Homo sapiens: one gene and its partner. The protein of the gene in region 1 purifies or fractionates together with the protein of each later gene. This does not show direct contact. Each region holds a gene or a part of one and is shown in the gene's direction. Other genes may lie near its edges.

The links. The genes of interacting proteins can lie anywhere in the genome.
Region 2: the proteins of SLC22A23 (region 1) and UBAC2 purify together in Homo sapiens (affinity purification with mass spectrometry; one large-scale study listed by BioGRID and IntAct). This does not show direct contact.

Annotation. Positions count from the first base shown.
Region 1 is NC_000006.12:3,450,551-3,454,050, reverse strand, and holds part of SLC22A23 (solute carrier family 22 member 23), read left to right. Parts: intron 1-3,500.
Region 2 is NC_000013.11:99,242,354-99,245,853, forward strand, and holds part of UBAC2 (ubiquitin-associated domain-containing protein 2 isoform 1 precursor), read left to right. Parts: intron 1-1,478; coding exon 1,479-1,598; intron 1,599-2,161; coding exon 2,162-2,271; intron 2,272-3,500. UniProt on the Homo sapiens protein: Restricts trafficking of FAF2 from the endoplasmic reticulum to lipid droplets.

The DNA of each region.
Region 1 (3,500 bases):
AGATCTAAATAAAGGACTGCCTTCCCAGTGTTCTGTGTGTTTCAAGCACATAACAAATGCTTCAAAGAGCTTTTCAAGCACATTTTGGCATGTTGGAAGGCAGACTTTTCCTGTGCTGCTGTGTATGTTGAATACTGTATCAGATGCACTAATGTGGGATGTACACTATGGTGAGTGCAGGAGTTCCAGGGGTCAGGTGCTTGTCAGCCCACATCCCAAGTAGAAGCAGAAAGTGGAAGGAGCCTTTGCCTTCTTTCAGTGGATAAAAGCTCAGGGTTTGAGAAGCTGCCTTTTGTGCCTCTTTCCTGCTCTGTTCCATGATCTTTCTCTTGCAAATAAGCCTCATGCTGTCTTCAGCATGTATCCTGTATTTAGTATGTATCCTTTAGCGTGTGTGTGCCCTACAATATATGCACCATTCTGTCCCTAGGTGTCAGAAAGGGAGAGGAAGACAGAAGAGCTACCAGGCACAGTTCTGGACCTCTTTCTCATGTGGCTGCTGGTATCCTAGCACCTACCTACACACGTGAAACTGTCAAGCCAGTTAGAATCCCAGGTTATTGTAGTTAAAAGGGATCTTAGGGCTGACCAGCCTCTCTCGCCTTCTGCATGATATCTCTAACATGAAGTTATCCATCCTAGTTTGAACACTTCCATCGATGGAAAGGGAGTGCTTTGTTAACAAGGCAGCTAGTCCATCCCGTAGTTGCTTTTCCTTGCAGGAAGGCACACTTTGGTAAATAAAACTCAGGTTAACTCATGCCTATTTGTGCCACTTGCTCCTCAGAATAATTTTTTTTAAAAAATTATTTCTTAAATAAAATGTGTTTTCAATAGCTTCTTTCCTGGCTGAAAAATCTACAGTACTTAAGCTATTCCATACGTGCAAAAATTTGCCATACTTATCGCTCTGGTTGGCATGTGTGTCTCTTAAGCATGGTACCCAGAATCCAACCCAGCCAGGCCCTGTGTGTTCTAACCCAAAGAGGGGATTGATGGATACTGTCCTTCCCCTACTGCAACCTAGAGTTGATTCATTAGGCTTAAACTAGACATGACATACTTCTGCTTCCAGACCATGATCACCAACCCCTCCAATGTTGTTTTCCTGGGAGTGGTGGATGAAATCAGGATTTTCTCAGTTTTAGGCTCATGTAGCATGACCATGACTTAGGTTTCATCTTAACAATTTTGAGTTTCTAGATCTCTCCCGTTAGGATCTTTTTATTTTTTGCCTTGGCCTTTGTATTTGTTATTGGTACCAGAATTTGCATCGCAGAATCTGCAATGCCTTCAAAATAATGACAACATTAATGTCAGTTTCTTTTGTGCAGCCCTTTATAGTTTATAAAACATTTCATATACATTATTTTCTTTGATTAAGAATAATAACCCAAGGTCAGTCTCTAGGCTTTTTTTTTTTTTTTTTTTTTTTTTTTTTTTTTTTTTTTAGACAGCGTCTGGCTCTGTTGCCCAGGCTGGAGTCCAGTGGTACGATATCACAGCTCTCTGAAGCCTCCACCTCCCAGGCTTAAGTGATCTTTCTGCCTCAGCCTCCTGAGTAGCTGGGACTACAGGCATGCACCACCACACCTGGCTCATTTTTATTTTTATTTTTTTGTAGAGAGGGGGGTCTTGCTATATTGCCCAGGCTGGTGTTGAACTCCTGGCCTCAAGCTGTCCTTCTGCCTCGGCCTCCCAAAGTGTTAGGATTATAGGTGTGAGCCACCAGCCAGACTAATAGCAGGTGCCAATCATGGATTTTAAGTCAGTGAACACACAGTTGAGTGTGCCATGTGTTCTGTACAAGAACCAGGTACAGATGCTCCTCTGCTTCGGATGGTGTTGTGTCTTGTGTCCAGATAAACCCCTCATCAGTTGGAAATATTGAAAGTGGAAAATACATTTAATACACCTAACCTACTGAATATGCTGGCTTAGCCCAGCCTACCTCAGATGTGCTGAGAACACTCACATTAGCCCACAGTTGGGCAGAATCATCTCACACAAAGTCTGTTTTATAATGTGTTGAATATCTCGTGTGACTTACGGAATACTGTACTGAAAGTGAAAAAGAGAATGGTTGTGTACTTCAGATACTCACACAACCATCGTGTTTTTCACTTCTGGTGAATAAAGCAGCCCTTATCGATACAGTTTCTACTGAATGTGTATCGTGTTCACACCATCATCAAGTCAAAAAATCATCAAGTTGAACCGTTTTAAGCCGGGGACCATCTGTGTTCAACTTTCTGATGACTTTCACAAGCTCTGCATTTTATCTCCCAGCTCTGTTGTAAGGTATTGTCAGTGCCTTGCAGAAAAGAATCAAATTCCTTCCAAGTGACATAGACAGCAAGTTTTGGAGAGCTAAGGACAAACAGGGCCGCAGCTCAGCTCAGTTGGCTTGCTTCTCCCACACCAGCATTCCCTGCGCAGCCCAAGTTCTCAGATACTTCTGAGATCTTAGTCAACAAAGTTAAAACAAAACAAAACAAAACAAAAAAACAAAGACTCCATGGACTTGCAAATATTGCGCTTAATGATTTGCACAGGCTGGGTGCAGTGGCTCACGCCTGTAATCCCAGCACTTTGGGAGGCCTAGGTGGATGGATCATTTGAGATTAGGAGTTTGAGACCAGCCTGGCCAACATGGTGAGCCCTCATCTCTACTAAAAATAGAAAAATTAGCTGGGCGTGGTGGCGCACGCCTCTAATCCCAGCTACTAGGGAGGCTGAGGCAGGAGAGTCCCTCAAGCCTGGGAGTGAGAGGTTGCAGTGAGCGAGATCGCGCCACTGCACTCCAGTCCGGGCGACAGAGTGAGACCCTGTCTCAAAAAATAATAATAATTTGCACAGTGTATCCTGCATTGTTCTGACTGAATCTGTTGGTTTCTAATACTCAGCACTTTCTTGAGTAATCTCTAGAACTTTTGCCAATAATCAATGCCAGCTGAACTTGCCCCAATTTTTTCTGTATTTGAAATGTAGGATGTTTGTCCAGCTCCAATCTTCTGGTAGCATTTCCTCTGTTCTCATGAATTTGCAAAGATTTCTGACCTTTATCCTGAAAGTTGCTTAAATATCCTGGGAAGTAATTTGTATCCTTTTTCTAGGGCTAAAGAGTAGAAGTTATTTAAAGTGACTTTAAGTACAATTTAATTAAGACTAGAAATAATTATATCATTGCAACAGTAACACTTTTAAAAATAGCCCACAATTCCATGATCCTAGTTATCATATGATGACTAGTTTTCACTTTTGAAATGCCTTACACACAAACCTGTTTTCACAGTTCTAATCAAAGTGTTTATTTAATGGAATCTACTATTTTCTTGACACCTCATCAAAAGAATTTGTCCATTTCTTCCGAAACATTTTAAATGCATGATATTTTTGCTGATTTATTAAAAGTTCTTAAATTCTTTTCCTAATACCGAACTGACGGCCGGGCACAGTGGCTCACGCCTGTAATGCCAGCACTTTGGGAGGCCGAGGCG
Region 2 (3,500 bases), on another chromosome or scaffold:
ACGGGGCGGCTGTCCGGGCAGAGGGGCTCCTCACTTCCCAGTAGGGGCGGCCGGGCAGAGGCGCCCCTCACCTCCCAGACGGGGCGGCTGGCCGGGCGGGGGGCTGACCCCCCCACCTCCCTCCCCGACGGGGCGGCTGGCCGGGCGGGGGGCTGCCCCCCCCACCTCCCTCCCGGACGGGGCGGCTGTCCGGGCAGAGGGGCTCCTCACTTCCCAGTAGGGGCGGCCGGGCAGAGGCGCCCCTCACCTCCCAGACGGGGTGGCTGGCCAGGCGGGGGGCTGACCCCCCCACCTCCCTCCCGGACGGGGCGGCTGGCCGGGCGGGGGGCTGACCCCCCCCACCTCCCTCCCCGACGGGGCGGCTGGCCTGGCCGGGGCTGACCCCCACCTCTCTCCCGGACGGGGTGGCTGCCGGGCGGAGACGCTCCTCACTTCCCAGACGGGGTGGCTGCCGGGCGGAGGGGCTCCTCACTTCTCAGACGGGGCGGCCGGGCAGAGACGCTCCTCACCTCCCAGACGGGGCGGCGGGGCAGAGGTGCTCCCCACATCTCAGACGATGGGCGGCCGGGTAGAGACGCTCCTCACTTCCTAGATGGGATGGCGGCCGGGAAGAGGCGCTCCTCACTTCCTAGATGGGATGGCGGCCGGGCAGAGACGCTCCTCACTTTCCAGACTGGGCAGCCAGCAAAATTTTAACTTTTATATCTGTTTTACCACAATAAAAATACAAAGAAAAGTTGGAATTAATATTTGTTTTACCTATCTCATAAGGTCATTGTGAAGGGGAAATAAGATTAGGATGTTTGAGATGTCATTGGGATTATCTTTAAAAATCTGAAAAATGTTTAAGCAGACTCAAAAATAGGCCTTTGAGTAGCTCTTTTTTTTTTTTTTTTTTTTTTGTATGTCCCCTTATATGTTTTTTATGCAGCCAGAAGTTGGGTGAAACAATGATTTAAATAAACTAATATTTCAAACCTAGTCATATTTAGCAGCAGTTGCCATAAATTACTTTGCATAGTTGCTATGAAGTAAGTTGATGATTAAAATTAAGCTCAGAAATGCATATTTTTGAGTTTATACCTAAGTTGTTTTTCAGTTACAACTTTGTCTTATTCAATAACATAAAAATGAACATTTGTTAGCCTTTCATTCTAGTTTACGTATATAATTTTAAAAAATCTTACTAAACGTGATCCTGAAATTTCTTATAGGCAGTTTTCTGTTATCTTAATGAGAATATGTTTTCTTATAAGCACAAAAAAATTCAAGTACCTTTCGTGCCACTGTTGGGAGGAATTTTTACTATGAGAGACTTGAGCTCAGAGAACATACATATATAGTTTTCCTTTGGTGTGTGCATTATGATTTTGTTTAGGACATTAAAAATAGGCAGTGTAAACATAACAAATTTGCTAAGGAAGAGACCCGAACAAATTTTACTCTTGTTTATTGTTCTTTTTTAAATCCCCATCTAGATTTGGAGGTTGATATGTGGAAGAATAATTTGCCTTGATTTGAAAGATACTTTCTGCAGTAGTCTGCTTATTTATAATTTTAGGATATTTGAAAGAAGATATGGAAGCAGAAAATTTGCAGTAAGTTTTTATGTATTTTGTCTTTGCTACTTAGGCTGTAGAAAAAAATTTTGTTTAAATGGATTTTATTTTGTTAAACTTGGTGTTGTTATTTACAGTTATCTTTTTAATTACACTATTCTGTATCTGATTTGAGGCACATGGACATTAACCAAAGAAAATTTTAAAATGTAAGACATTAGCATAATAATAATAGTGATAATGATAATATGTAGTATTAGTTGTGAACACTAATACAAATTTTAATACTTTGACTTTAATAAAATTATAATTTATTTTGCTTAGTGGTTTGTGTTTTACTTGTTAAAAATATATCTTCAACATACTTAAAAATTATGGCTGTTAATACATTTGAGCAATATGGGTTTACCCCGCCCATTTTCTAAAGTCTATTTTAATAAAAACAAATAATTTCAAATATATATACACACATATGCATGTGTGTATATACACACACACACATACATATGAATACACACCTCTGAGCTGATTCTAGCTGAATAAATGTTAGTTTATTTTTAGGAGACTCATCTCTATCATTTTTCTGCTGTTTTATTTTGTAGTCCTTTTTGCTGGGTTCCTGGGTTTTGTCAGCCTTATTTGACTTTCTCCTCATTGAAGCTATGCAGTATTTCTTTGGCATCACTGCAGCTAGTAATTTGCCTTCTGGATTGTAAGTAGCACTTAAAGATTGACTTAATTTAGAACTACTTGAATCTGATTTAAAGTGTTATTATTATTATGTGAAAGTCAGTAAAATAATATTTTAAACTTCTAGATATAGTTAAATTGATTTTATATGTAAAAAGTCTAATCTATGCCTACATTTTTATTATGTTCTTGAAATAGAATCAATTTTATATTCTTTCTTTAAAATTTATTTTACTTTTTTTTTTTTTGAGACGGAGTCTCGCTCTGTCACCCAGGCTGGAGTGCATTGGCACGATCTCGGCTCACTACAACCTCCGCCTCCCGGGTTCAAGCGATTCTCCTGCCTCAGCCTCCCAAGTAGCTGGGACTACAGGCACGTGCCACCATGCCTGGCTAATTTTTGTATTTTTTAGTAGAGACAGGGTTTCACCATGTTGGCCAGGCTGGTCTTGAACTCCTGACCTCAGGTGATCCACCCGCCTCGGCCTCCCAAAGTGCTTGAGCCACTGTGTGAGCCACCTTGCCCAGGCACCTTCTTTTTTTAGCTTTGAAAGTTTGTGTTTTAGAGAATTTTAAGTGAATTTCCTATTCTGATCCTGATAGAATTAGTTTTGTGTGTTTTTATAGTGAAATTTGTCTTTGTAATTTTATGAACTAAACACAAAAATATAGTTTAATTAGATTAGGAAACAAAATTAATTTGTACGAAGTTAAGCTTCTGAAGAATAATTTTTTAAAAGCTGATAATGTTTAAACACTTCCATCAAACATAAAACAAAGCCGGTGTATAGGTTATAACTTTGTAGACAACCTGCCGTGGCCAACCCCACTCAGAATTTGTATGCTTTCATATTGCGTTGATCTTCTTTAAAAAAAACAAAAACCATGTATTAGTGTGTGAAATAACTAGAATCTAGGAGTAGAGTTGACAGAACGAGACTCCATCTCAAACAAACAAACAAAAAAACAGGCCGGGCGCGGTGGCTCATGCCACCTTTGGGAGGCCGAGGTGGGCGGATCACGAGGTCAGGAGTTCAAGACCAGCCTGGTCAATATGGTGAAACCCCATCTCTACTAGAAATACAAAAATTAGTTGGGCGTGGTGGCACGTAGTCCCAGCTGCTCAGGAGGCTGAGGCAGAAGAATCACTTGAACCCGGGAGGCAGAGGTTGCAGTGAGCGGAGATCGCTCCACTGCACTTCAGCCTGGGTGACAGAGTGAGACTCCGCCTCAAAAAACAAACAAAATACC